Regions from separate parts of the Homo sapiens genome. Here regions 1 and 2 are each linked to region 3. The links come from fine-mapping of genetic effects on plasma protein levels. A gene starts in region 3. Each other region holds a variant in brackets. All regions are shown on one strand. Distances are between the middles of the regions. Region 1 overlaps FGFBP1 (fibroblast growth factor binding protein 1). Region 2 has its middle 12 kb from the start of FGFBP1. Region 3 holds the start of FGFBP2 (fibroblast growth factor binding protein 2).

What was found. PIP is the posterior inclusion probability: the model's chance that the variant is causal. The UK Biobank Pharma Proteomics Project read protein levels with antibody pairs (Olink). The fine-mapping took linkage between variants from a reference panel, not from the people measured, so its PIPs are less certain.
Region 1: its variant is fine-mapped to the plasma level of the FGFBP2 protein (UK Biobank, PIP above 0.99).
Region 2: its variant is fine-mapped to the plasma level of the FGFBP2 protein (UK Biobank, PIP above 0.99).

Annotation. Positions count from the first base shown.
Region 1 is chr4:15,928,305-15,938,375 of GRCh38, forward strand. It overlaps FGFBP1 (fibroblast growth factor binding protein 1), which reads right to left. Exons shown (of 3, transcript NM_005130.5): 2 at 9,947-10,071; 3 at 7,273-8,348. The coding sequence starts at 8,328. The coding sequence ends at 7,624. Among named protein-coding and RNA genes, the nearest start is that of FGFBP1, 5.4 kb to the right of the region's middle. The variant T/C (reference allele first, on the strand shown) is at 5,570.
Region 2 is chr4:15,945,721-15,955,791 of GRCh38, forward strand. No RefSeq gene overlaps it. Among named protein-coding and RNA genes, the nearest start is that of FGFBP1, 12 kb to the left of the region's middle. The variant C/T (reference allele first, on the strand shown) is at 4,921.
Region 3 is chr4:15,957,617-15,967,687 of GRCh38, forward strand. It overlaps FGFBP2 (fibroblast growth factor binding protein 2), which reads right to left and starts at 5,559. Exons shown (of 2, transcript NM_031950.4): 1 at 4,822-5,559; 2 at 2,629-2,995. The coding sequence starts at 5,513. The coding sequence ends at 4,842. RefSeq lists an enhancer at 5,589-6,430.

The sequences.
Region 1 (10,071 bases), 29 kb before region 3:
ACAGTGGGAGGTGCTGCCTGGCATGGCCCCTTCCCATGCCCCCAGCCATCCTGGCCTTGTTCCCTCTTGCATGTTTATGTCTATTGTACTACGTGGTCCTCCCTCCTGGACGCTGCCTCTGTTTTGCCTTTGCATTTGACTACTGACACCTGCCCCTCAGCATGTCAATCTCTCTCTCTCTTTTTTTTTTTTTTTGAGACAGAGTCTCACTCTGTTGCCCAGGCTGGAGTGCAGTGGTGCGATCTCAGCTCACTGCAACTTCCACCTCCCAGGTCTAAGTGATTCTCCTGCCTCAGCCTCCTGAGTAGCTGGGATTACAGGCACCCACCACCACGCCTGACTAATTTTTTTTATATTTTTAGTAGAGACAGGGTTTCACTATGTTGGACAGGCTGGTCTCAAACTCCTGACCTGTGGTTATCTGCCCGCCTCAACCTTCCAAAGTGCTGGGATTACAGGCGTGAGCCACTGTGCCTGGCCCAGGATGTCAATGTCTCTTGATGATCCTTTTCAATATCTGCTTTTCCACCTGCTGACCCATTTTTGGCAACGTGGTCTAATAATAAGGATAAATAACCGAGCACTGGGCTATGTCCCAGAAATGTTGTCAGGAGCTTCATAAACACCATCTCACCGAATCCTCCCTGCACTCTGCCGTGGTGATAACATTCCCCCAAAGCACAGACAAGAAGGCTAAGACAATCAGAGAAATGAAATGACTGTCTGAGGCCTCCCCAGACAGTGGGAGGCAGAATGAATTTGAAACCCAGGGCTCTGCTCATTCCACTGCCTGGGGCTGCCTCCCCGGCAGACTCCTCTGCTCCAGTATGAGTGCTTGAGAGCACAGCTGCCCGGGGAGGTTCCAGGCTCTGCTCTTACTAACTCTGTGACCCTGGAAAGTGACAAAACTCCTTACACTCCCTGGACAGTCTTGACAATAGGGTGGTCGTGAAGATGAAAGAGCTTATGCAGGGAAAGCAGTTTGAACAGTGCCCAGAGGAGTGGACCTCCACTTTGGGTGTCCAGTGCGATCGCTCGGAGTGCTTTAAAAATTCCTGAGCTGTCCACCCCTACAATTCTGATGGGACTGCTCTGGGGTGCAGCCTGGGCATCAGGATTTTCTAAAGCTCCCCAGGTGATTCTAACCTGTAACCAGGGCTGGGAACCACTGCCTCTAGCATGCAGGAAGCACCTAATAAATGTTGGCTAGAACTCTTTTGTCCTGTCTGGCCCCCACACCTGCTTCTGCTCTGAAGCCATGACCACTCCCCTCCCCACCCTTGCCCTGCCTGGTTTCCCAGCGACTAAGGGGTTGGCTTTGGGCTTTTCCAACAACATGGGCACATATGCCAGGATGGTCCATCTGGGTCCTTGGATTCCTGCCGTTGCAAAACCCCAGCCTACCCTGGGGCTACCAATGTTTGGCTTAGAGCAAGCTTCATACTCAGTCCAGGAAAGACAATTCCAGGAACTGAATTCACAGTTGTGTTAATGGGAGTGGGTGTAGAAGGAGGTGGCACTTTCAGCTTTGAGGGGCCCTAGATAACTCTGGGACTCTCCTATGACATCACTCACCTTGGCTACTTTCAATGGGAGGGGGCTGTTGCTTTACTTCGGAAGCTAGTGCTGACAGCATTTGGTAGCAAATGTGCCACTACTAAATCACATTGTGCCTGGCAGTCAGGTTCTGGAGGCAGTGCTTATGTTTGTAAAATTTATTTTAGTCAAAATCACATTTGACAACCTTTCTTTTGTTGGGTACCAGATAAAGGCATTGGTTTGCATTTAGAGCAAAAATAAAATACCTATTTTTAAACACTGGAAGACCAGAGACAGACAGAAAAGAAGCAAACTCCCATCCGCTATCTTAAGTACACCCCGGGCACATTTTCACTGCATCCAAGGGTGGATTAAGTTGCTTACAGTATTCATGTCTTTACACTTCTCTCTTTCCCCCTCCACAGCAGGACACATATTGTTGAAGGAGCCTAAGTGAATTGTGAATGTGCTACAACTTCACCGTAGTCCAGTTGTTCTCCACTGTGGGTAACTTCATCTCCAGGAGGCATTTAGCAACTTCTGGACATATTTTTGGTTGTCATAACAGGGGGAAGGTTGCTACAGTCATCTAGGTACTAGGGCCAGGGATGCTACTCCACAGCCAAGTATGCACAGGGCTGTTCCCTACTCCAGGGAATTATCAGCCCAAACTCTCAACTTTGTCGAGGTTGAGAAACGCTTCGGTAACCTCTGAGGTTTATTGAGCAGCTGCCATGCACTGCGTGGGTGCTAAGAATAGAGTAGGAAGCGAAGCAGATCCATTCTCTGCTCACCCAGCGCCCACAGCAAGTGGCATCCTGATTCTTATCAGTGGCTCCCCTGAGCACCAAGATCTAAGAGCAGTGAAGGTAGGGGCTGCTGTACCCACAGGAGGGTCTCCAGGACAACCAGCCACCCAGGAGCCTGAGCAGGAGGAGCCTGTAGGAAGTGAGCTGGAAGTCAGGTTAAGAAAGTCGCAGAGGCTACTCATAGGCGCCAGCTTTGTCTCCATCTTCCTCCTTCGTCATGCAAAGTGCTTCTGTGAACTTCATGAGCATGGGGTTCTTAAGGCCCATTGGGTAGAGGCTTTAGGAACCCCATGATCATGCTGCACACAGCCAGGCTCCATCTCACAGGCAGGTCCTTGGCATGGCCTATCTTGAGTCTGGTGTAGCTTTTTTTCAAAAATTGCCTTCTTATCTCCTGTCTCAGCTAATTGGTTCCTTCATTCACTTACTTATAACAAAAATTTAATGAGAATACATATGTGTAAGGACCTAGATTTAGGTTTTAATTATGAATAGTTCTTATTGGATGCATATTCCAGACCCATTTTAGAAATGGAAAATGTGAGATGAAATAACTTGTTACAGGTCACTTTTCTTTTACTCTGGAGCCCGTAATCATTGCCCCTGCAGTGATTTCTCTCCTTCTCTTTCATATACTCAACCAATATTTATGGAGGATCCACTGTGTGCTGGGCATGCACTGAGCACCAGGGCTATGATGGTGGACAAGACAGATTTCATTTCTGCTGTTATTACCTACATTGTATTAGTCTGTTCTCTTGCTGCTAATAAAGATATACCTGAGGCTGGGTAATTTATAAAGGAAAGAAATCTAATGGAATCACAGTTCCACATAGCTAGGGAGGGCTCCCAATCATGGCAGAAGGCAAATGAGGAGCAAAGTTATCTCTTATTTGACTGCAGGCAAGAGAGAGCTTGCGGAGGGGAACTACCCTTTATGAAATCATGAGATGTCATCAGACTTACTATCATGAGAACAGCATGGGAAACACCTGCCCCTCATGATTCAATTACCTCCCACTGGGTCCCTCTCATGATGTGTGGGAATTATGGGAGCTACAATTCAAGATAAGATTTGGGTGGGGACACAGCCAAACCATATCACACATTTTCAACTACTTTATGGAAACTCCCCCTGGAGAGCTCACCTCAAGCGCTCCAGGTCCCAAGCCAGCCTTCTTCTAGAATCTTCTCCCCATCCCTCCCATTCTTCAGAGGGAGTCTCAAAAAGATTTTCTTGGATATTGCTGCATGAAATGGTGAGCATTGTACACAGCACATTATGCAAACCAACACATCAGAGGATGGCTGGTGTCATATCTGCTTGAAAGCTTTCAGCCCCAAACACTTTGGCATTCCTGCCATTTCTGCCAAAAACAACTTCGGAGAGAGGCTGGGGAAGGAGGCTAGGTGAGATCTGTTGGATTCCAGAGATTCAAGTCAGCACTGGTGTGACTGTGAGTTACCACACAGAGCTGGGGTGCCCGAAGGAAGAGACCCTCTTTCTGCCGAGATGTGGTTTTATAAGGAAAGAGAGACATTCCCACTTCTGAGTGGCTTTAGGGGGTACAGACATGCCAATCTTCAGCACATCTTACCTACCGAAAAATTTCCATCTTTTGCTGTCAAAACAAGTCATATCTTAAAGACCACACACACAGAGAAAGTTGGCTTCTCTACTTCATATCCAGAAAGTTCTCAGGGAGAAAATATGTAGCACTAAGGTGAATAGAAGTCAATGTAGCCGGGCACGGTGGCTCATGCCTGTAATCCCAGCACTCTGGGAGGCCAATACGGGTGGATCACCTGAGGTCAAGAGTTAAAGACCAGCCTGGCCAACATGTTGAAACCCTGTCTCTACTAAAAATACAAAAATTAGCTGCGCGTGGTGGCAGGTGCCTGTAATCCCAGCTATTCGGGAGGCTGAGAGAGGAGAATCGATTGAACCTGGGAGGCAGAGGTTGCAGTGAGCTGAGATCATGCCACTGCACTCCAGCCTGGGTGACGAGAGCGAAACTCCGTCTCAAAAAAAAAAGAGGAAAAGAAAAAGAAAAAAGGTAAAAAAAGAAAGTCAATGTAAATCTGTGGAGCCTCTATTTACATATTTCTTTTTACTGTGTTCTTAAAACATCCCCTCAGCATATGACTATGATCGGAGGCTGAGTGCAATGGAAGTGTTCACTTCTAGAACTTTCTCTCTGTAAGGACAGGAAGAAGATATATATGTGGAATGGACTGATGGATATTGTTCATTGTCAAGTTTGGCCTACATCCAGAGACCATAAATGTCACTCTTCTATCACTGAGTGAAGAAAATCATGCACTTCAGAGGCAGAAAGGGCTTGGGACCTCCAGGCCAGGGATTCCCATTATAGGCTCTGCCATTTAATAACTTCATAACCCTGGGAAGGTTCCTCGGCTTCTCTCAGCCTCACTTTCCTCATCTAGAAAATGAAGGTGAGACTCCTACCAGATGGAGTTGTGGGGGATTCACGAGACAATGGAGCAAAACCACTGGCACACAGTGGGTGATCCATAATGGTGGCTCCTGGCCACTTGTACTACAGACACAAATAAACAAAACCAAAAACCTTCCACAGTTAGAGAGTTTTCACTGGGAATTTTGACTTCCCTCTACAATTCAGTCTCCTGCTGTGGACTTTAAGTGGTCAGTGGTGTTGAACAACTATTATCTAACTATTGGCATAGTATTAAGAGATTCAGAGATATTGACCAATGTCAGTGTTTCAGGACCCTTAATAATGGGTGGGTTTCATGATTCCATTGTCAAGATGAGCTCATTTCTGCTCAGAAGATTAAATAATTGGCCCTGAGACTGGTTATCTATCAGCAGAAGCAAACTTTGTGCTGAGATCCAGGTCACTCTTCCATGGTAGAGGCAAAACTCCTTCCAGTTCTGCCAGTGACCAGAGGCCAGGAGTGAACTCAAACCAGCAACTGCGGGCCTGGAGGAGTTTAAGGAGGTTTTGGGTCTGTTCTCCAATGTTCTTGCCAACCCATAACAAACCTGATGACTGTTGAGTGACTCCTGGAGGAGATTATTATTCTTTTTCTATCTCAGGGCTATGTTACATATGTGGAGGAGGGGGCCACAGGGCTGAGAACCTGTGTAGACCTTAAGGGAAAATATCCTTTCTTTGCTGTGGCTTGAAGGAGCTTGGGGAGGGTCTGGAATGTTGCTTCAGTGCTCTTGGAGTTGG[T/C]GGTAAGGTTCACAGGTCAGGCCCCAGGCCCCATCCTACAATGACCCCACCCTCTTGGACATTTCTCTAACATGCCAAGCATGATCCCTGTCATGGGAATGGAAGTGCCATGAAGACAGGGATTTCTTTTTTCTCTTTCCTTCATTGCTATTTCTCACCTATGGTAGAGTTCCTGGCAAAAAGAAGGGACAAATAGGATTGAATAAATAGATTAACCATGATTTCAGGGCATATGTTCTGACTGGTCCCTCTGTTTGGAACATGCTTACCCAGGAGAGTTCCCTGGCTAAAAAGAGATTCCTCTTTTTAGGTCTAAGCTCAAAAGTAACCACCACAGAGAGGCTTTTCCTCTCCACCCCATCTAAAGCTCATTACCCTCGATCACTTTATCCCCTTCCCTTGCTTTAATAGTCTTCTCTATCGTGTATCATGTATCATGAGCTCATCATCACTTTTCCCACTGTTCCATGAGGGCAGAACACTCGTCTCTTGTACATCCATTGCTGTATCTCTGGCACCTGGAACACAACCTGGAGTGAGTCAGTGCTCTGTAAGTTATGTGTTGAGTGAGTGAGTGAATGAATAAATCCACTATCCATGGGAAAACTTGGAACAGTGCTTGCTCATAGCAGGTAAGAGATAAGTGCTCTTTTTATTGATGATCATGATGACATCCAAATGTCACTCTGAGGCTGTGGCACTGTGGATTGGCCTCTGACGTCCTCAGTGTGCATCCCAGTAGGTTGGTGAATGTAAAAGGCTTTCCTTCCCCCCCACCTGCCATTCCTCCCTGCCACCATCAGACATGCTAAAGAACAGTGCTTTCGTCAGCTTCTGCTCCTCCTTTCCCTGGTTGTGGAATTGTGACAAGGCATTGGAGACAGTTCATCCTCTCTCCCCCACTCTTAAAATACAACTTTCAGATCCTTCATACTAACATATAAATGAATAATGGCAGTCTCATCGCTGCATCCCATCCGATCCCAGACACCTGACCTCTCCCAGAATCTGAAACTTCCCATCTATTCACTTTCATTCATGTTATCAAATGCCTAAAGTGCCTCCACTTTGCCCCATTTTATTCCCACAGATACTCTTTCCAAAATCCAGCTCCACTATTCCCTCCCCTGTTACACTCAAGCCCAGATCTTACAGCAGTTTCTGCCTTCTCTCTCTGGTTTTCCTTGTAGCCCTCTCCCCCTTCCTTTATAGCCCTTATCTTGGGCCACTGTACTTAACTAGGCCTTTCTTCTCCAAGAATGAAGAATGAAGGAATGAAACTCATTTCTTCTCCAGAATTGAGCTTTGCAAGGCCGGGGTCTTTCGGGTGGGGGAGGGAATGGGCAGCTCTGACATGAATCAGTAGCGGAGGTTCCTCAACCCTGTAGACTCAGCTGTCAGAGCTCCTGGGTTCCAATCCTACCGGCCCTCTTACCATCTATGAGTCCCTGACAAATGATTTAATCACATTATATACCAGGTGTCCCACCTGAAAACAGGGATCCTAGTTATTATACTTCAATAAACACCAAACACCACTGACCAATGGATACAATTATAAAGAAGGATTCCAGAAAGAGATAACTTGCGAAGGGTGGGGAACTGGAAGTTCCTGTTTAGATTGTTTTTCCATTGATATATGGGGACTACTTAATGAGTTTATTTGGGACCAGACACAGAGAAAACCAAGCAATGTTTGAATGTATTTCTGAAAAACACCCAGAGTTTTATTACCATTAATTCAGCAGAAAGTTCGTTGCACTGAAATTATCACTCTGGCTCATTCAGCTCAAAGACTCTTCGCTGCTCAAACACATAGCTGTGTGGGCCATGGAAATACATGCTGCAGGAAACAGCCTCTGAACATCGCATCCAAGAAAAATAAGGCAAATTCCAAAACACAAAAGCAAAAAATACAAAACTTGTTTAAATATTTCGTTGCACTCACTAAGCACAAAAGTTCATATTTTGGGGGGACTGTAGAGAGCTTTAAAGTATACAGAGGGACTTACGACATGACATCTCTTAAGGGAACCCGTTCTCTTTTGACCTCATTAGCATGACGTGTCCTGCACTATGCTGAGGAAGAATGTGCAGAGAGAGCTCCAAGTCTCTCCACAGAACTCCAGGGCAGTCTTCCTCTGGTTTGCCATATCTGGGTCCTCCACACACTCGGGAGCTTTGGTGGCCATGGTCTGGGTCACTGCTAGGCTAGAGGGGGTGGTCTCTTTGCCTTTGATGTGCTCCCTGGGGGACATCTCTGTTTTCTCCTTCCTGGGCTTTGTGTTCCCAAATAGAGTGGAGCTGACTAGCTTAAGACTGGATTCTGGAAAATCCTTTCTGCACACTCTGGTTTTCACAGCTGTCTTGGAATATCTACAGATGTCTTTCTGTGAGCGCAGATTCCGGGCAACTTGTTTCCAATAGACTCTCTCATCCTTGAGCTTTAGGCATGAGGTTGGATTGCCAGCAAAGACACAGGAAAATTCATGGTCCAATTGAGTGCACTCAACCTTGAGAGAGATGCCCTCCTCCTGCTCAGTAGCAGCCCATCTGCAGTTGGCTTGGTCTTTGGTGACAAACTTGCCTTTGTTCCCGGGCCTGCTTTTCTGCTTAATCTGGGTGTTGCCCAGAGTGTCCTTTTGTTCTGAGACCACTTTGCTGTGAAGTCCATTCTTCACTTTTTTTTTCCCCTCCACCAGGAGCACCTGAGCAGCCAGTAGGAGGAAGGAGAGCAGGGTGAGGCTACAGATCTTCATGGCTGCAGCTGGGCGTTCACCTGTTTGACAAAAGGCAAGTGAGTCAGTGGCAGGCAGCAGTTCAGCTGTGCAGGACTACACGCTGGCCTCCCCCTACCCTGACAGGTGCCTACATGATTTCAGAGTAGACCAAGAACGCTTCTGGCTCCTGGAGTCACTAGACAAACAGCCTGTCTACTCACATTTCCACTTGACTTGAGTCTTGAGTGTCACAAAAGTACCACTCTTTGGAGCCTCACGAACTCTCATTTATCATTTATTCACTCATTAACTCCTGCATCTGCTCACTCCTCACTCTTTCATTCACTCATTCAACAAGCATTTACTGAGCACCTACTATATGCCCCCCACCAGACTAGGTGTTGAAGAAATCACCATGATTGAGAAAGCCTCAGATTTGAAAGAGCTTAGAGACCACTCTTTGGGAGAATTTAAATAGCATTGATCAGGGAATCTATCCCGTCATCTCTGTTTCTGATATGAAACAAGTTACTGCTCCAAACTTTCAGCTCCAAAGGGCTGGATTTCTATCTCATGACTCCATATGGACACAGATGCCCAAAATGAGAAAAGACATGACAGATGCCCAAAATGAGAAAGGATGTGGTAAGCATCATGAAAGGTGATGTTGACCCAGAGTTGAACATGCCTGGGGTTTGGGTGGGGTGGGTGGGGTTGTGGGGGTGGGGGAGCTTTTTGTGGGGAAGTAAGAGTTTAAGGAAAGGTGTGAGGTGGGGTGGTTGTCTGATTTGCCTGGGCAAAGTGAATCAGGGTGGAGAGAGGTGAATTTCAACCAGATAGTTCACACTACAAGATCGAAGACAAGGATCATGAGAAATCATTGAATCAATAGGATGAACACCAACGTCACACTGAACTGCATGAATCTGATCATGTGTACAATAAAAACCCATGCTTAACAGAAGAAGAGAAGTCAGTTTCTATATGACACCTCCTGTGTGCTAAGTACTGGTCTAGGGTTTGATTCCCACCTTGTGAAATCCACACAAGAGCTCTTCCAGGTAGCTATTAATATGTCATCCCAGGTGACAGCTCTGACTCTTAAGGCTCAGACAGGTAAGTAAATTGCTCAGGATCTCATAGTGGGCAAGTTCAAAGCTGGTATGGGTAGCCAGATCAATCTCCTTATTCCTTTCTGTCACCCCTGGTTGATCACTTTTTGCTTTTCACATTTACTCTGCCCTTTAAAAACATTGCCAAAGAATAAGAAAAACAACTATGAACAATGACAATTTAGTTTCATATAACACATAATGATAAGATGATTTGTATTATTTGTGCTCCATTTAAAACAAAACACAGAATTTTTTATAAAAAGAGGCAGACCCAGGAAATGGTCCTGATCTGATTTCTACCCTAGAAGTTGGCCATCTTCTAGGGTTAAGAAGGAGAAAGACAATCACAAAAGGGCAGAGAACAGCAATAAATGGTGAAGAGGAGACTGGATATGCCAGAAAAACACCCAGTCATTTCTCACGGCCCTGGGGCTCAGCCCCCACCTGCCCATGATGGAATGCAGGCCCAAGGAACTCCAGGCCCTTGGTGGAGTGAGAAGTGGCAGCAGGTAATAAAGCTGTTAAAGGAGCGAGGCTCTTACCTTGTTCTGAGCACACGGATCCAGTGCAATCCCAGGCAGTGCGAGTGAATTGCAGGCTGCAGCTGTGTCAGGTAGAGTGCAAGGGGGGTAGACTATTCAACAGGAGCCAGGCTGACTGGGTTTTT
Region 2 (10,071 bases), 12 kb before region 3:
AGAATTTCTCAAGAGCCTGCAATTATGCAAACACAGCTCAACAGTGGGGGAAAGGGGATGTTATCTCTTCAGTCATTATTCAGTAACCACTCTCAGCAAGGTGAAGTATCAGGCACTCAAGGGAAGATAAGATGAACATGGTTTGGCTCTTTTTCCTAGACCTGACCAGGTGAGTCTATGGCTCACACTTTGATGATTGCTGTAGTGGTGATACCTCATCACTCCGACATTTTGACATCAAATTAAGAGGTGATGTTGTCTGGGGTGGTGTTATTTTTGTGATAAACTTCTGAGTAAGGGCCATGTCCATTTGGAAGGCCATATCTTTCCCAACTAAGTACCCAGTGGAGTTGATGTGAGTCTTACCATTGGCCATGTTTGGTTAAAGCAATGGCTTATTAGGAGGGTGTGAGCCATTGGATCATAAATTAATGAAAGAACCCAGACTGACTTCTTAGTACATTTTCTGTTGCTATAACTGAATACTTGAGACCAAGTAATTATAAAGAAAAGGAGTTTATTCGACTCACTGTTCTGGATGGTGGGAAGTTTAAGATTGGGCAGCTGCATCTGGGAAGGGCTTCATGCTGCAACATAGCATGGTGGATAGCATCAAGTGGTGAGAATGCCTGTGAGAGCAGTGAACAGGCATGTGCAAAGGAAACCAAACACAAATGGGACCTAGCCTTATAACAACCCACTCTTGTGTTAACTAATCTACTCTCATGAGAGTGAGAAGTCATTCCCACAAGACAACATTAATCTTTTAATGAAGACAGATCCCTCCTGACCCAAATGCCTGTAATGCCTCTCAACATCATTACATTGGGGACCATGCCTCTATATGAGCTTTGTTGGGAAGGCACAGACCAAGAGTAATAAAATCAAAAGTCAACAGAATGGTGTGCAGGATGACACCAGGTAGCTTCAATTATGATAGAAGAAATCAGTCTCATATCTGCCTAGCCCTTGGGACAATTTATGGTAATTGATCCCTGTAGAGTTTGGGCCCTACATTTGGCCTCCTCCCCTTACGTGATGGAGGCAAGATGGAATTTTTATAAAGACACCTTAAGTCCTGGGCAAAAAAGAAACTCATTTAGGTGTTTATCTGATGGCCTGAAATTTTAAAAGAAGTTGTTTGAGGAGGCCATTTTGTATCTCAACAACACCAGTTTTCTGAGACCTATAATCTCCTGTAGCACAATGACATCTACCAGGTGACTGAGAATGAACAAAGCTACAACCCTATAGAGATAGAATATGCCCAAGGACCCAGTATTGGCTCCATCCTGTCTAAGATGCCCTCAGTAGCTGTGTGAAGCTTGTGGGTACTGTACCTATGACCCAAAACATAATGAGTATAGAGGGTCATGGGCTCAGGTCACAATAGCAGCAAGGCCAGTAACAACAAAGAGATTTGCCCATATAGCAATATTTAAGGTTTCTAGGAGTCACAGTTTTCCATGGGGAGACACCCTACACCTCGCCGCCAACCATTAGAGATGGGCCTGTCTAAATTTGGAATCAAATGGGTGAGTATCTTCATAGAGTCCCAATGCTCAGGGGCCCAACAGTCAATGTCAACCTGTGATGGACTGTTCAAGGAGGACCTCACTTGTCCAGGACTTTGTCCACCAGAGTAAGAGAAGATTTGTTACAAGAAGGGAGTTGTGCCTGGGCCTGAATGCCCAGCTCCTGAATTCTCTATGGTGAGCCCTGTCTACGGTCTTGGCAGGCAGGTCATCAGTCTCGGTGCCCTCAAAGCACCCTAGGGGCAGCCACTCCCTGCTCCTCCTCTCTCCAGAAAGCGTTTACTGTACTAATTACCCAAATTGCCTGCTTAACCTCACATCTGCCTGGTCACTTGGTCCAGTAAGGTGTGCACTGGGGACCTCTCTCACTCCCAATGGTACTACTACCTGTGCAAAGCAAGATCTGAGGTCCTTCCCTTGCCACAGTTTAGACTAGAAAACTGTGAAAGGGCACAGCAGAGGTAGCACAAGGCAATGGCAGCCAAAGCACAGGCACCCCACCGGCCGGCAATGCCCTCCCAAGTAGAGCTAATTCCTCCCTGGATTAGCTAATTCCTAAAGATAATACAGTATATGTGGTTGGCACAGTCAGCTAACGAGCCAAGAGCAGAAGGAGGCACGGTCCTTATGGAACACTGAGTCACCTTGCCGGCTGCTCAACTGTCCCAAAACGTACCTGTGGGATTTTAACTCATGAACGTGACTGAATGATGACACAAAGAGGCTGGTGCCATTGAAAAAATAATTTACTACAGTTACCTCCTCCCCACACCCCCGTATCTACAGGTTTCACATTTGTGGATTCAATCAACTGCAGATCAAAAATATTTTTTAAAAAATTTAAAAAAAACCATGAAAAATAATGCAAATAAATAATACACTATAACAATGACTTACATAGCACTTATGTTGTATTAGGTATTGTAAGTAATCTAGAGATGACTTAAAGTATACAGGAAGATGTGCATAGGTTATATGCAAATACCATGCCATTTTACAGAGGAGACTTGAGCATCTGCAAATTTGAGTACCCATGGAGGTCCTGGAACTAATCCTCCTTAAATACCCAGGCATGACTGTACTCACCTTTCCAAAGAGAAGGAGCATGCCACAGCACACAGGGCTTCAGCAGGAGAAACATGAGGTTTGGGTCAGGTGGTGAAAGCAGGAGCGAGGGAACACCTAGGCCAGAGCCCTTATCATCGTTTCCGAGGGAAAGTTGAGGCTGGATGGAGAATATGGTCTCGGATGTGCTGGTTTTAATAATTCCAGCAGGCTCTGGGGCACGTGGTGTGGCTGTCTGGTCCTGTCTCCAGGTAGATTTAGGGTAAGGGTTAATACTGGCTTGGTATGTGAGAGTTAGATAAAGGGAATGGTTGGTTTACATGTGACAGGCGTGATCCCAAACATACTGTGTCATCTTTAGGAATTAGCTAACCCAGGGAGGTCTGTCTCTCCCTGAATTTATCAGGTTCCCAAAGGTATCAAAACAGCATGAGTTGAAAAAATAAAAGCACATGATTAATACGACCACCCAGTCTCATAGATTAAGGAACATGAATGTCACCATCATGCTTGGTTTTGTATCACCTCAGCTTTTCTCCGCATTTGTACTTTGTTTTCTCGGACTAATTTTCTCTACTTCGTGGGAAACACGGGTGTCACCAGTTCCAAGCCAAGCAGAAGTGCGAACAATCCCAGGGAGAGATATGATAGGTTGGTCTTGAGTCGCATTCCTGCCATTGGATTTGTCAACCATGGCCAAAGAGCAGGATTCTATGATGAATGGCCCAGGCCTCTGAAACATGCAGCTGGGTTTGGAGGAGGAGCAACTATTCTCCCAGAAGGAGAGCGCTGTTCCCAGAAGGGAGAGAACCTATAATGTAATTGCCTGTGCTGGAAGAAAGCTACGGATAAGGTCAACAAAGAGGTTTGCGGGGGAACATTCAAGGTTTCACCTTAGGCTTCATCCAGACCAGGGGCTGTCAACCTTGCCAAGGATGAGGATCCTCTTACAACATCCACACTCTGTGCAGACCTGCCCGTCGCAGCACTCAATCACAAACTGTGACTGAGAAACAATGTGATGGTAAGAGTGACAGCAGCTACCACTTGAGCTATTACTCCTTGGAATTTGTGTGGATAATCTCATGTAATCCTTGAATCACGCTTAGGAGACAGGTACTGTTATTATTCACATTATGGAGAGGAGAAAATAAAAGATCACTCAAAACCAGACAGCTAGTGAACGATGGGCCAGAGTCCAAAACAGGTCATTGATTCAAAAAAATGTATTCACTTAACCTATGTTATCAAAAAGTGCCACACGGCCGGGTGCGGTGGCTCATGCCTGTAATCCCAACACTTTGGGAAGCCGAGGCAGGTGGATCACCTGAAGTCAGGAGTTAGAAACCAGCCTGGCAAACATAGTGAAACCCCGTCTCTACTGAAAATACAAAAATTAGCCTGGCCTGGTGGTGGGCACCTGTATTCCCAGCTACGTGGGAGGCTGAGGCAGGAGAATCGCTTGAACCCAGGAGACAGAGGTTGCACTGAGCCGAGATTGCACCACTGCACCCCAGCCTGGGCAGCAAAGTGAGACTCTATCAAAAAAAGAAAAAAGAAAACAAAAAGTGGCACAATAGTACATGGGATTGGTAATGCCTTTAAATACAGTTGCATTTTATTTACCACAATGCTATCTACGGTCATTTGAAAATGAATTGTACATTTGTTTACAATAAATATTACTAATTTTTATTTTTTCTTTTAAAATATTTTTTAGGCATGGTACGGTGGCTCATGCCTGTAATCCCTGCGCTTTGGGAGGCTGAGGCAGGGAGATCACTTGAGGCCAGGAGTTTGAGACCGGCCTGGCCAACATGGAAAAACTTTCTCTTTAATAAAAACACAAAAATTGGCTGGTAGGGATGGTGGTGAGCCCCTGTAACCCAGCTACTTGGGAGGCTGAGTCTTGAGAATCACTTAAACCTGAGAGGAAGTGATTGCAGTCAGCCAAGATCACACCACTGCACTCCAGCCTGGAAAGACTCCATCTCTAAATAAATAAATAAATAAATATTTTTTAGAGACAGGGTCTCACTCTATCACCTAGGCCAGCATGCAGTGGCACAATTATGGCTCACTGCAGCCTTGAATTCCTGGGCTCCTGTGATTCTTCCACCTCAGCCTCCCAAATAGTTAGGACTGCAGGCACACACCATCACACCCAGCTAAGTTTAAAGTTTTTTTTGTAGAGACAGGGTCTCATTTTGTTGCCCAGACTTGTCTTGAACTCCTGGACTCAGGTGATCCTCCTGCTTTGGCCTCCCAAAGCACTGAGATTATAGCCACTGTGCCTGGCAATATGTTGCTAATTTAATGG[C/T]CTCATGAATCCCTACATCTCCCCCTTCTAGCCCAATGTCCTCTATTCTCCCTACCCCAAGCCAGGCCCTGCTCTGGAGTCCTTTGGGGTCACCACTTGGAAAACTCTGAGATAACACAGGCTGCCGCTCCCGAATGACCAAGGGGAAGAAATTCCACTGGGGCACTGGAAGAGGAAAAACAGTATAGGCATCCCATAACCAGCTCATCCTGAGAACTTGTACACCATTTCAAACATGGCGGAGACAAACCCTACAGAAGGACGGTGTCATCTGAGTGTGACAAAGGGAGGGATAGAGAATTAGACTCCTGCCCATGGGGCAGGTTTGATTTAGTAACATGTTCCCCCTTCTTTCAATGTAAATGATCTGAAAACAAAAAAGGGGCCAGAAACCTGTTTCACTCTCCCTTTAAAACAATTATCTGAATAAATTCAACAACTTAATTTGTCTTAGGCTTAGAACTTACACTAACAAAATGTTGTGACAAATTTCCATATTTAGCAGTGATGTGATTTCATATTTTGCAGTGATCAGGCTGATTTAGGCTCATGTCTTTCCCAGATTTGGTTGCAAGACTCATATTTCCAGTTTTCAGAAGCATCTGTGACTCCATTGAGATAGCATGTGGCAACCTTATCCAGGAAGACCAGTCTGATGTATGAAGAGTTTTTCCTTCCTGTTTCATCAAGTTTATCTGTCTACCTGATTTATAATCATACTATGAATCTGCATAGCACAATATCATTGTCAAAGCCCTTCACTGTGTATTATTACTATATTAGATCTTTTTAAAATTATTTTATTTATTTGTTTGTTTGTTTATTTATTTTTGCAGAGACAGCATCTTGCTATTTTGCTCAGGGTGGTCCTGAACTCCTGGACTCAAGCAATCCTCCTGTGTTGGCCTCCCAAAGTCCTGGGATTACAGGCATGAGCCACTGCTCCCAGCCCCATCTGATCTCGATAGTCCTCAATAAGGAGTAGCCATTATTATCACCTGAAATAAAGATGAGGAAACTGACTTCTTTAGTGACTTCCCTCAAGTTTGTTGAAGTGTTTCATTTCAACAAGTACTCGTTTGCTAAAGTTAGGCCCAGCTCTCCCATTCTAGTAGAGAAAATACAGTATTTTTTTCTTACTCTGGTGGAAAAAGATGAAAAGTGATACCACAATCCAAAACTAAATCTGGCAGTAACTGATGCATGCTTCTAGGAAGAGTCCAGCAGAAAGCTGCACAGGGGAAATCTTGGTACCTCTTCAGTTCACAGCCTGACCTGGTTTGGCTTCAAGAAGCAGAGAGGACCACAGAAAAGGAGAGAAAGAAAGGGAACAGATACTTCCAGGGAGGTGTGAGACAAAGGGTGAGTAATTCAAAGGCTAGAGAGAGATGGTGAATATGTGCTCACATAAAACAGGTCACTCTCATTTAATAGGTCTAAAGACTTTCTCAGCTCTAATTTCTAAGGTGTCAATAGCTAATGACTTCATGGTAAGGTAAGAAAGATGTTGTTTAAGGAACAGCTACAAAACCTCCCAGCTGCCTACAGAAGGGCATTAGGCTTGATCTAGAGGCAAAATATGTCCTTTAAGAGTTCCTCTGTGCTGATTATTAACTGTAATCATTGTGGGGCACAAAAATATGTTACATATTAGTAGTTAGAAACACAACAAAGGATTTTTAGTTTTTTTTTATTTCTATAGATTTTTGGAAAACCGGTGGTATTTGGTTACATGAATAAGTTTTTTAGTGGTGATTTGTGAGATTTTGGTGCACCCATCTCACAAGCAGTATACACTGAACCCAATTTGTACTCTTTTATCCCTCACCCCCTCCCAACGCTTTCCCCCTGAGTCCCCAGAGTCCACTGTGTCATTCTTATGCCTGGTGTATTAGTTTGTTTTCATGCTGCTGATAAAGACATACCCGAGACTGGGAAGAAAAAGAGGTTTAATTGGACTTACAGTTCCACATGGCTGGGGAGGCCTCAGAATCATGACAGGAGGCAAAAGGCACTTCTTACATGGTAGCAGTAAGAGAAAATGGGGAAGAAGCAAAAGCCAAAATCCCTGATAAACCCATCACATCTCATGAAACTTATTAACTACCGTGAGAATAGCATGGGAAAGACCATCCCCCATGATTCAATTACCTTCCCCTGGGTCCCTCCCACAACACATGGGAATTCTGGGAGATACAATTCAAGTTGAGATTTCAAAGGGAACACAGCTGAATCTTATTATTCTGCCACTGCCCCCTCTAAATCTCATGTCCTTGAATTTCAAAACCAATCATGCCTTCCAAACAGTCCCCCAAAGTCTTAACTCATTTCAGCATTAACCCAAAAGTTGACAGTATGAAGTCCCATCTGAGACAAGGCAAGTCCCTTTTGCCTATGAGCCTGTAAAACCAAGCTAGTTACTTCCTAGATACAATGGGGGTATAGGTATTTGGTAGATACAGCTGTTCCAAATGGGAGAAATTGACCAAAAGAAAGGGGTTACAGGGCCCATGCAAGTCCAAAATCCAGCCAGGCAGTCAAATTTTAAAGCTCCAAAATGATCTCCTTTGACTTCAGGTCTCACATCCAGATCACACTGATACAAGAGGTAGGTTCTCATGGTCTTGGGCAGCTCTGTCCCTGTGGCTTTGTAGAGTACAGCCTCCCTCCTGGGTACTTTCATGGGCTGACGCTGAGTGTCTGCAGCTTTTCCAGGCACACAACAGTGCAAGCTGTTGGTGGATCTACCATTCTGGGGTCTGTAGGACAGTGGCCCTCTTCTCACAGCTCCACTAGGCAGTGCCCTAGTAGGGACTATGTGTGGGGGCTCCAACCCCACATTTCCCTTCTGCACTGCCCCAGCAAAAGTTCTCCAAGAAGGCCCCACTCCTACAGCAAACCTTTGCCTGGGCATCCAGGCATTTCCATACATCTTCAGAAATCTAGGTGGAGGTTCCCAAACCTCAGCTCTTGACTTCTGTGCATCTGCAGGCTCAACACTGTAGGAGATCAGTCAAAGTGGTGGGAGAAATTATAGGCAAAGGGCACAAACCTTTGGAAAGGTCAGAAGGCTCTGCAAAGCTTCAGGGAGAATAAGATAAAGGCAGCTGTTCTCTTACCCTGAGGCAGTGGGTGAGAAGTAGGTACAAGGGAGTGCAGGGGAATTTATCTAAATAGGCTTGTTTACTCATTTTGACCAGAAAAAGACCTTTGATCATCCGCGCGTGACCAGTTCCCTAAAAGGAGAATAATAAATGTTAATTACCCACAGACTGTGTTTGCTCCAGGCTTTCGGCATTATGCCTGTACTAAATAAAAGCAAGCAGCTCCAGCTTATCGAGGCTGCTCTTTTCTTTGGTCCCTAGTGCCAGCAGCCCCCTAGCTGCTCTTACACTGCATGCCTGTGTCTGAGTACTCCTTTCATCTGTCGCTTGGCCAGGGTCTGCGGGATGGACCCAGCAGCTGGTGCCCCTGTGAGACTCAAAACTTCCAAGGCTTGAGGCTTCCACCCTCTGAAGCCACAGCCTGAGCTTTACATTGGCCCCTTTCAGCCATGGCTGGAGCAGCTGGAACACAGGTCACCAAGTCCCAAGGCTGCGCACAGCATGGGGACCCTGGGCCTGGCCCCCTAAACCACTTTTTCCTTCTGGACCTCTGGTCCTGTGATGGGAGGGGCTGCCCTGAAGGTCTCTGACATGGCCTGGAGACATGTTCCCCATGGCCTTGGGAATTAACATTAGGCTCCTTGCTACTTATGCAAATTTCTGCAGCTGGCTTGAATTTCTCCCCAGAAAATGGGTTTTTGTTTTCTATCGTATAGTCAGGCTGCAAACTTCCCAAACTTTCATGCTCTGCTTCTCTTTTAAAACTGAATGCCTTTAACAGTACACAAGTCACCTCTTGAATACTTTGCCGCTTAGAAATTTCTTCCACCAGATTCCCTAAATCATCTTTCTCAAGTTCAATCTCTAGGGCAGGGACAAAATGCCACCAGTCTCTTTGCTAAAACATAACAAGAGTCACCTTTGCTCCAGTTCCCAACAAGTTCCTCATTTCCATCTGAGACCACCTCAGCCTGGATTTATTGTCCATGTTGCTACCAGCATTTTGGACAAAGCCATTCAACAAGTCTCTAGGAAGTGACAAACTTTCCCACATTTTCCTGTCTTCTTCTGAGTCCTCCAAACTGTTCCAACCTCTTCCTGTTACCCAGTTCCAAAGTCGCTTCCACATTTTTGGGTATCTTTTCAGCCACGCCCCACTCTACTGGTACCAATTTACTGTGTTAGTCGATTTTCACACTGCTGATAAAGACATACTTGAGACTGGGAAGAAAAAGAGGTTTAATTGAACTTACAGTTCCACATGGCTGGGGAGGCCTTAGAATCACGGTGGGAGGTGAAAGGCACTTTTTACATGGTGGCGGCAAGAGAAAATGAGGAAGAAGCAAAAGCAGAAACCCCTGATAAATCCATCAGATTTCATGAGACTTATTAAATATCATGAGAATAGTATGGGAAAAAGACTGGGCCCCATGATTCAATTACTTCCCCCTGGGTCCCTCCTGCAACACATTGGGAATTCTGGAAGATACAATTCAAGTTGAGATTTGGGTGGAGATAGGGCCAAACTGTGTCACCTAGCAAAGGATTTTTATGCTCATATTTTTCTTAGCCATTTTATTCAAAGCAGCTAGATGCCATAATTTATGCATCATCTGGAATCACTTAAATTTTTTCTGCAGAAGGTGTGATTGATAATTGTGAAAAATGTCAATAATTGTCCTAGTGTCCAAAATGCCCCCCAAATCAAATAACCTTTGAATTGCTGAACGTAAGTGCAGGAATGTATAGTGGAGATCATGTAGGTCAATGCCACCAGTTTAAATCCATCCATTTGATTAATTGGACAACTATTTGCCTTATTTGTAAAAACTAAAGCCCCACCTGTCAGGTTCCCCTCAAGTACTAAGGGCAGAATCGAAAATGCACAGATTTCTCATATTAAATGGAAGTGGAACACTTCATAGGGCAAGTCTGGTCTCATAGATAATTCTCCTTACACAAGTAAGTTGAGACCTCACCTTTAGGGTCTTCTTGTCCCTCTCTTGATTACTCAGAGGGACAGCTTTTGACTACCTGGAGACCACTC
Region 3 (10,071 bases):
CCATTCTCACCTCACCATAGTCTCTGGCAGCCAACATTCTACTTTTGGTATCTGTGATTTTTGACTAGTCTAGGTACTTCATATCAGTGGAATCATGCAGTATTTGTCCTTTGTGACTGGCTTATTTTATCTGGCATAATGTACTCATGGTTCGTCCATATTGTAGCCTATGTCAGAATTATCTGCTTTAAGGTTTAACAAAGCCTTTCCTTTTAGGATGACTGAAATATTGCTTGGCCAATGTTACTCTGCATAAAACACATGGAAATGTTAAAATACACATTTCTGGGCCTCACCCCAGATACTCTGGTTCAGTTTGTCTGTGGTGGGGCCTGAGAATTAGCATTTTTTTTGAGATGGAGTCCTGTTCTGTCGCTCAGGCTGGAGTGCAGGGGCATGATTTTGGCTCATTGCAACCTCCGCCTCCCTAGTTCAAGTGATTTTCCTGCCTCAGCCTCCTGAGTAGCTGGGATTACAGGCACCTACCACCACGCCCAGCTATTTTTTGTATTTTTTAGTAGAGATAGGGTTTCGCCATGTTGGCCAGGTTTGTCTCAAACTCTTGGCCTAAGGTCATCTGCCCTCCTCGGCCTCTCAAAGTGCTGGGATTACAGGCATGAGCCACCGTCCCCGGCCAAGAATTAGCATTTCTAAAGCTCCCCAGCAGAAGCAGATGCCTCTGCCCCACCTGTCACCCTTTGGGTAGCACAGATTTTCATCTTTAAAATCACTGGTCAGCTATATGGTGATGTTAGTTTAAAATGTTGGTGAAAAATGGTCTGTGACAAATCCCAGCCTATCCTGTGATGTTTACAAATTGAACGCCATGAGCATTAGAATTGGGTGAACCTGGATTTCTCTGCTGTCCTGACTCTTAACAAGCTGTGTACAACTCACCTCTCCAGACTTTCAAGTCCCTTGGTTTATAATTGGGAATAAAACTACTTACCTCCTAGGGATGTAGTGAGAGCTATATGAGGGGGTGAGTGAAAGGCTCAGAGCCCTTATAAGAAATAGACTTGGTATGTCACAGTAGATGCTTGATGTATATATATTTTAGAAACTCAACCCCAGCAAACGTCCCCTGGCTGCCCCCACCCACCGCCTTCTGTGTCATCTCCAACACTCATCAATGTGTTGTCTTGGTTTCCACTACTTCACTGCACTTCTAAGATGTGAAACCTAGTTGGTTAGTTCATGTCTCCCCTAGCCAATGTGTTGCACAGTGCCTGGGACATAGTTGATGATGAATAAATATTTCTTAATTGTGTGAACTACATATAGAGGCCATATTAGTAGTCTTCAACTCAGGTTACACATAGAATTGCCTGGAAATTACTTAGGATACACCCCAGAGATTCTAATTCAATTAATTAAGGGCGGTGTTTCTCAAACTTGGCTGCATATTAGAGTCACCAGGGGAAATGTAAAATTGCACATGCTCAGGCCCCATCCCTGGCCAGTTACACCGTAACCTCTGGTGCTGACGTCCAAGCACCAGTGTTTTTGAAAAGTTGCCCCAGGTGACTCCATTATGTAGCTAGGGTTGGGCACTGCTGGGCTAGTTGGGGAAACAATTTAAGTACATCAAGAGTGGACTAGTGGGCCAGGTACAGTGGCTCACGCCTGTAATCCCAGCACTTTGGGAGGCCGAGGCGGGCGGATCACCTGAGGTCAGGAGTTCAAGACCAGCCTGGCCAACATGGTGAAACCTTGTCTCTACTAAAAATACAAAAATTAGCTGGGCATGGTGGCACATGCCTGTAATCCCGGCTACTCGGGAGGCTAAGGCAGGAGAATCGCTTGAACCCAGGAGGCGGAGGTTGCAGTGAGCCGAGATTGCACCACTGCACTCCAGCCTGGGTGACAGAGCGAGACCCATCTCGAATAAATAAATAGCCATTAGAAAAAAAAGAGAGAGAGTAGACTATTAATGTGTTCTTAGGTAAGACAAATACGAAATTAAGAAGTGAGTCACTTTTCGCGTATGTCTAATAAAATCTAATTTTCTTCCTTTCCAACTCTGTTGATTAATTTAATTGCTGAGTGTACAGGGTTGTTCTTTTTCAGGTTCACTTCTCTATCTTTTTGGCTAGTTGCTATTGCTGCATGGTGGCTGTGCTGGGTTGAATAGTGCCCACCAAAAATTTATGTCCATTTGGAATCTGTGAATATGATCTTATTTGGGAATAGGGTGTTTGCAGACATGATGGAGTTAAGATAAGGTCTTTCTTGATTAGGATGGACCCTAATCCAATGGCTGGTGCCCTTATCAGGAGAGGGAAATTTGACACACACGCAAGGGAAAATTCCATGTGAAGACAGAGGCAGGGATTAGAGTGATATGTCTATAAGCCAAGGAATGTCAAGGATTCCAGCAACTTTAAGAAACTGACAGAGAGGCATTGAACAGATTTTCCCTGAGACCCTCCAGGAGAAACTAACTTTGGTGACATCTTGAGGCACTTCTTGCCTCCATCACTGTGAGAGAACACATTTCTGTTGCTTTAAGCCACCTAGTCTGTGTAATGCACGATGGCACCCTGAATAAAATAATAGTGACTTCATGGGTATACATGATCCCTATAGCATCTAGGTATCACGTTCATTAAGAAGACTAAAGTCGTATTTCTGAAATCATTCTTTTATTTTGCACACACATAGCTGCTATTTACTGAACACTGGAAATTCATGAATGCGTTACATATTTAAACTTTCATAGAAGGCTCAGATCAACAAAGCAAAACTTCTACAGATAATAAGTAGTTGTGTATGCTTGTCACTCTTGGGCCCATCAGCACCTGTTCCCTATCATATTGCTGAACTCTGCAAACTCCAGAAAGGAAGGTTTCTTTTCCAAACTTCAGAGAAGCTGCAGATCAAGAATTTGGGCCGTTGCATCTGATTAGAAACTCTCTTCTTCCAGTGTGAGAACGTTGGATTGAAAGCGGCATAATATAAAAAGAGATGGTTGTCTGTCAGGGAGAGGTCAGATCTAAAAAAAAAAAAAAAGAAAAAAAAAGGAAGGGATGAAAAATTCTTTCTTTGTTGTTATGGGTTGAATTGTGTGAATTGTGTCCCTCCCAAAACCTAAAAACCGTAGACTTAAGTCCTAACCTCCAGTACCTCAGGGAGCGTTTGTATTTAAAGATAGGGGCCATTAAAGAGGTGGTTAAGGTAAAATGGGGCTGTTTGGGTGGGACTTCATCCAGTGTGAATGGTATCCTAACAAAAAGAGATGAGGACACAGACCCACGCAGAGGAATGACAGAGAGAAGGCTGCCATCTATGAGTCAAGGAGAGAGTCCTCAGAAGACACCAATCCTGCTGACACCTTGATCTTGGAATTTCAGTCTCCAGAATTGTGAGAAAATATATTTCTGCTGTTTAAGCCACCCATTCTGTGGTATTTTGCTATGGCAGCCCCAGCAAGCTAATACAGTAGTCCTATGCAGCTTATCTGCAGGATCAAGATATTGTTTTGAGCTTTAGCGCCTGTATGCATCTGTATATACGCTGTACATCTGTCTGTGTAAATACGCATGGATGGATGTCTAAATGGGTACTCTTCTGTTAACATTGTTTATCTCTGTGTGGTGGGATTATGGATGAAGTTTTAAAATTCTTTGTATTTTTCTGTTGTGTTTGAATTTTTCAAATGATTTGTATGTCTTATTTGTAGAAAGACCAAAAAAATCACTTTAAAAAGAAAAAAAAAAGGACCTCCTCTCAATAGTAACTTTTTTTGGCTTAAGTGTCCCCTTTTCTCCTCTGGGACAGATCTGAAATCTTAAACAAGCAGAAAACCTCCAGCCCAGAACAGCAGACACCAAAACAACTTTGTTGTGAACCAACATTTCTTGCTGCCTGGGCGCTTGTAGAAAAAGCCTTATTTGTTTGGTGGTATTCGTTATCAAAGTGCTGTTTATCAGGAAATCTGCTTTGTTCCTATTTTTCTTACATAGATAATATGAAAAAAACTCAGAAACTCTCCTTTTAAACTCAAAGTGCACAAGTAAGACTAGAATCCCATGTAAATGAACTCCTTACTGGTGTGCAAAATTAATGAAAGCTGCTACATTTAAGGATAGAGATCAGTAATAAGCCTTATTTCCACAAGAAAAAGTTTGGTCTTTTAAAAGCAATACTTGGAGTTGATTAAATCTGTTATTATTAATTAGATTTTCTCCTCTGTGATGAACAAAAAACAATTAAAGGCTTTGAGAGCTGTGAGAAAGACTTTAAAGACTATTTGACTCAAACTTTCCTCAGTGCACAACACTCCCCACCCTAACTTGACTGTAGGAGAAAAAACTGAGAACAAGACGGGGTGTGGCGACACCTCCACCATGACATAGCACCTCGGCCACTAACAGCTGCAGCAAATGCTTGGTTCATTAGGAAACGTTACCCGGCAGAATTCCAAAGGCCTCGGTCTAACAGTGAGGTGGTTCCATCACAAGGAGATTCTCAACCTTGGCTGCACATTCAAATCACTTGGGGGAGAGTTTTAAAAGTCCACATTCCTGCGCTACTATGTTGGAGACATAGATGGAACGGTCTGGCGAGGGGCCTGGGCATCAGCATTTTTAGAGCTCCTTGTAGGTGATTCCTATGCAACTCCAGGGTCAAGTGCCACTCCGGATGAACTACCTCATCTACACTGCTCTGCAACAGACAGCCTCAAACCCACCCCCAAACACACGCTGAGACTCTGATGTGGTCGCAGCAGCTGTGAAAGTGCTAAGTGCCTCTCACGTAGTCTCTGTATATAAGTATATACACGTAGTCTCTGTATATGAGTAAAGGAAAGGGTATTACCTGTAGGGGTCTTTCACCTGTCACCCTCGGAAGAAGCTGATGAGAAAGGCGCACAGGGCCTGGAAGGGTTTCCAACAATGTTCCCAGGCCTTCTTCTTTGCTTCCTCATTCCCTCCGGGCCTGGGTCCAGGCTGGGTAGGTTTGGCTGTGGGTCGGGTGGTGGGTTTGGCTTTTCCCAGCTCTTCCATCGAGTCCTTTCCCAGCTGTGTTGCTTCTGTGAGTTTCACTGTGGCCTTGGGCCTCAGAGATGGCGTCCCAGCCTCAGGCTGCTGGTTGGGCTCTGGGCTGCCCTTGAGGCTGGAAGTCACCTGCTGCATATGGGCCTGGGGTCCAGCCTCCCTGCACACGGATGGCCTAAGCACCGGGGCCCCCTGGCACGCATGGTGAAGGCGCCTCAGCTCCTGCAGGGCTTGATTCCAGTAAGGTTTGGGGTCAGCAGCGAAAGCCTGGCACATGCTGGGCTGCCCCCTGTACTCACACCAGTAGGTCTGGTCTGTGTTGCGGCAGTCGACACGAAGCCAGACTTCTCCAGCACCTTGCCCCAAGCTGCTGGGACGCATAGTGCAGGAATCTCTCCCTCCAGTCTGGAAATGGAATTCCTCCCCAGTGCTTCCTTGCTTTTGCCTCGGGGCCTGACCCAAAGTCCCCAGGCAGGACAAGGTCACCAGCAGGAGGCAGGGGACGAACTTCATGGCGATACTCCGATAAACTTGCTTGCAACTCTGCACCAGGAGAGAGAACACAAGTGGGACGAGTCACCCTTTAAAGGGTGCTGCACAAAAGACTCTTTCTCTGCAAGGGTGGGGAGGATGTTTTGCAGCAAATGAGAAACATGCCCACAGACCTTAGACACGTAACACTTGGCAAGGGCAGAGCAGCCACCAGGGGCCGCCCACCACAAGCAAAGGGAATGGTTTTCCTGAGTGCCTCAGAGAGATCTGCCCCAGCCCTGTCACGCACAAAGCGCCACACACAGCTTTGGGGCTGAGGGTTTTACAGTTTTCCAACCACAGGGTGCTTGCTCTAAAATTGGCCCTTGTACGGGAACAGCCTTCTTTGTCAACATTTGGTATATGCCAAGGTGTGGCAGTGGTATTCTGGAAAGTGAGGTTTGCAGCTGGGAGTCTGGGCTGCCTCGAGGCTCCCTCCTGCTCCCTGGAATCCCCATCTTGGGGGACCATGGGTTTAGTTAATCCAAAGGAAGCCAGAATTTTATGAGCCTAAGTGTTATGAGATGGCCTAGCAAATGCAAAAAAGACTATGTGAGGTTGTGTGAGGATGTGTGTGCCAGAGGGACACAGAGACACTCCCCCTCCCACCCACCGAGCTGAGAGTCACCTGGTGTGGCCTCTGTGGGGCTGTCCCGCCATCACCGTGGCCACAGGCCACAGTGCTGCAATGTTCACTTCCCTTGTTATTGCATGCCTTACAATTGCACCAACTGAATGATGACGAGGAAGGCATGCAAATATATGTTCACAGTGGGATTCAGTCTATTTTAGACCATGAATTCTATTTCAAATTCAATTGAAATAACACAGTTTTAATTATATCACAGGAAAATATGATTTTAAATATTATTATTATTGTTCTACAATAGAAAAAAAATAAATTGAAAATAACTTTTGATTCTGTGTCAAGAATCATAGTTTGGTATGGTCATAACTGTCTTTTGATGACCCTTCCAGAGGGCACTGTGGAGTGGACTAAAGGTGGCAATTTGCTGTTAGGAATAGGGTTGACGGATGTTGGGGGACTAGTTTGAATGTGAGGGATTTATCTTGGCGATCCCACGTAGGGTAGTTGGTACCTGGCACAGCCTTCCTTCCACCTGGATATCCTGAGTCCTGAGAAGACCTAGTAGGGCTGGAACTAAAGCCAGGCTGAGCTTCGGCAGCCACTGTGTGTGTAGCAGTGAGAGCCTTCCAGAAGAGGGCATCACCCCAGGTGGGGAGCAGAGGAAGCTTCCAAGAAGTGGTGCCAAACCTTCAAGACAAGTCAGTCAATTTGTCAGGTTGAGAAAGGGTAAAGGGCAGGTGTTTTTTTTGTTTGTTTGTTTGTTTGTTTGTTTTGGCCTCATTCTGTCACCTAGACCGGATTGCACTGGTGTAATTATAGCTCACTGTAGCCTCCAACTCCTGGGCTCAATTACTTCTCCTGCCTCAGCCTCTCAAGTAACTGGGACTACAGGCATGGGCTGCCACACCCAGCTAAATTTTAAATTTAAAATTTTTAGGGACAGGGTCTCACTCTGTTGTCCAGGCCGATCTCACACTCCAGGCCTCAAGCAATCCTCCTGCTTCCTTGTCCTCTGGAGTCACTGGAATTACAGATGTGAACCACCACAACCAGCTAAAGGTAGGTTTTTTTTTTTTTTCACACAGTCTTACTTTGCCACCCAGGCTGGAGTGCAGTGGCACAATCTTGGCTCACTGCAACCTCCACCTCCCAGGTTCAAGCAATTGTCCTGCCTCAGCCACCTGAGTAGTTGGGATTACAGGCGCCTACCACCATGCCAGGCTAATTTTTGTGTTTTTAGTAGAGATGGGGTTTCACGACGTTGGCCAGGCTGGCCTCAAACTCCTAACAAGTGATCCGCCCACTTCAGCCTCCCTAAGTGCTGAGATTACAGGCACGAGCCACTGCGCCTGGCCAAGGGCAGATTCTTAAGGCAGGATAATGCTTCCTGTAAAGGAGTGATCCTGGAGTGCAGGTTTATGGACTGCTGAAATGTCAAGGGCAAGGAGGCAGTGGTGAGAATCAGGCTGGAGAGGTGACTTAGGGTGGGGTCCGCAGCCCCCGTACCAATCCACAGGGCCAGTTCTAAGACAGAGGCTTGCCCTTTGTGTGCTTCCAACTCAGGAGCCCCTGGAGTAAACAGCACTCCAACCCAGGCTCCATGTCGTGGCCACAGGAAGGCAGGTGTTCAGCTCCAACCTCCTTTCCCCCACCCACCACAGTGTTGCAGGGAACAGCTTGCTAGACCCATCTAGACACCCTGAGGTTATGGCCAGCCCTTTTCAATGCCCTAGTGAGGCTGAGTTTACCCTGCAATGGGAACTTATCATAAGAGCTCTAATCACGCTCTTCCTCTTTTCGCTTTTGGGACAAGCCAAACCTCAAGACCTTTGCACTAGTGCCCACTGCCTGAAAATCTTTTCCTTGAACATCGCATGGCTGCCTTCTCCCTGCCACCTTCACAGAGGCCTTCCCTCGCTATACAATGTAAAAGAGCTCTTCTGTTCCTCTATCACTTCATCCTGCTTTAATCCTCTTGAAGGCAGTGATTTCTCTCTTTTTTTTTGAGACGGAGTTTTGCTCTGTCACCCAGGCTGGAGTGCAATGGCGTGAACTTGGCTCACTGCAACCTCCGCCTCCTGGGTTCAAGCAATTCTCCTGTCTCAGCCTCCCGAGTAGCTGGGACTATAGGCACATGCCACCACATCTGGCTAATTTTTGTATTTTTAGTAGAGACAAGGTTTCACCATATTGGTCAGGCTGGTCTTGAACTCCTGACCTCGGATTATCCACCTGCCTTGGCCTCCCAAAGTGCTGGGATTACAGGTGTGAGCCACCATGCTCAGCCCAATTTCTCTTCTTTCTTATTTGCTTGTTCATCTTTTAAGTGTGGAGTGTCATGATCAGATTTGCACTGTAAGAGACTGCTGTGTTGAGAAAGGATTGGTGGACAGGGGGACTTTGTACAGGGAGGGTAGTGGGCAAGCTGGCTCTGTATGGGCTGAGTTGCTGTAACAAAAAGACCTTCTCTATTATGAACCAGTCTTCCAGGTTCATGCCTGGAAGTTCTTCAAATTTAACACATGCCTTCCAAGGTTTGTTTGATTGCTGCCATTTCCAGTGGAACAAGTCCAGGATCTGCAGTTTTGTCTTAGTAGACACTTCACTTACTTACTGCTGGCCTAAGCCTAGTCACTCAGCCACATCTAGCTGCAAGGGAGGCTGGGAAATATAGTCCCCACCAGGTAGCCTATGTCTAGCCAAAACTCAGGGGGCTGGAAGCCTAAAAGAAAGAGGGGAATGCCTCGCTAGCCAAGAGACATTATGAAAACTGTAAGAGGATCTCATCAGTGGGGATGGAGAGGAAGGCTTTGTGACCAAAGGTAGATGGAAGGGAGGGGGAAAGCAGACTTAAGAGTTCCTCCAGCTCCAGTGATAGGGTGAAGGTGGAGAAATTCAAGAAAGGGAACATGGTGGGGAGAACCTGTGGCGATGTGCAGGTCAGGACAGTGGTTTAAGGCAGGGGCCACAAACTGTGGCCCATGTGGCCTGCTTTTGTAATTTTTGAAGAACACGGCAATATCTATTCACTTACGTATTGCCTATGGCTACTTTTGTGCTGCAACAGAGTTGAGGAGACATAGGCCACATGGCCCAGAAAGCAAAATATATTCACTGTCTGACCCTTTTCAGAGAAAGGTTGCCAACCTCTGGTTTAAGGTGCATCTGGGTGGAGACATGTCATGAACACAGGGTTGGCTGGAGCTCTATGTGATGAGAGAACCAAAGGGAGCAGGTGAGGTGATGAGTGAATGAAATTACCCAAGGAGAGAGTGAGGGGCACACCAGGAGAGAACCTGCGAATGCCACCTAAATTTAAGAACTGGAGAGATGAGTGTTGGAAGGAGACTGAGGAATAGACAGCCATGCCCCAAGAGGACACTGGAGAGGGCTCTTTTGGGAGCCTGAAGGGAGATCTTTGTAAAGGGGATGTGTTCACAAAAGTCAAGTCCTCGGTGACCCCGACAATAGCCCTTCAGGAGTGGTGGGGACAGAAGGCAGGTCACAGGAGTTGAAGAACCAATGGAAATGAGAAAGTGGACAGAGATGTGTCGAGAGTTCTTTCAAGGAAATTATTTCCAAAGAGAGAGGGAAAAAAGAAAACATCTTGTACTACCAGGCTGAGTGTGCAATGGGGTTGAGGAAAGGCTGATTTTTTTTTCTTTTTTGAGACAGAGTCTCGCTCTCTCAGCAGGCTGGAGTGCAGTGGTGCGATCTCAGCCCACTGCAACCTCTGCCTTCCAGGTTCAAGCGATTCTCCTGCCTCAGCTTCCCGAGTAGCTGGGACTACAGGTGCCCACCACCACACCCAGCTAATTTTTGTATTTTTAGTAGAGATGGGGTTTCACCATGTTGGCCAGGATGGTCCCGATCTCCTGACCTCATGATCCACCCACCTCGGCCTCCCAAAGTGTTGGGATTACAGGCGTGAGCCACTGCGCCCGGCCAGGC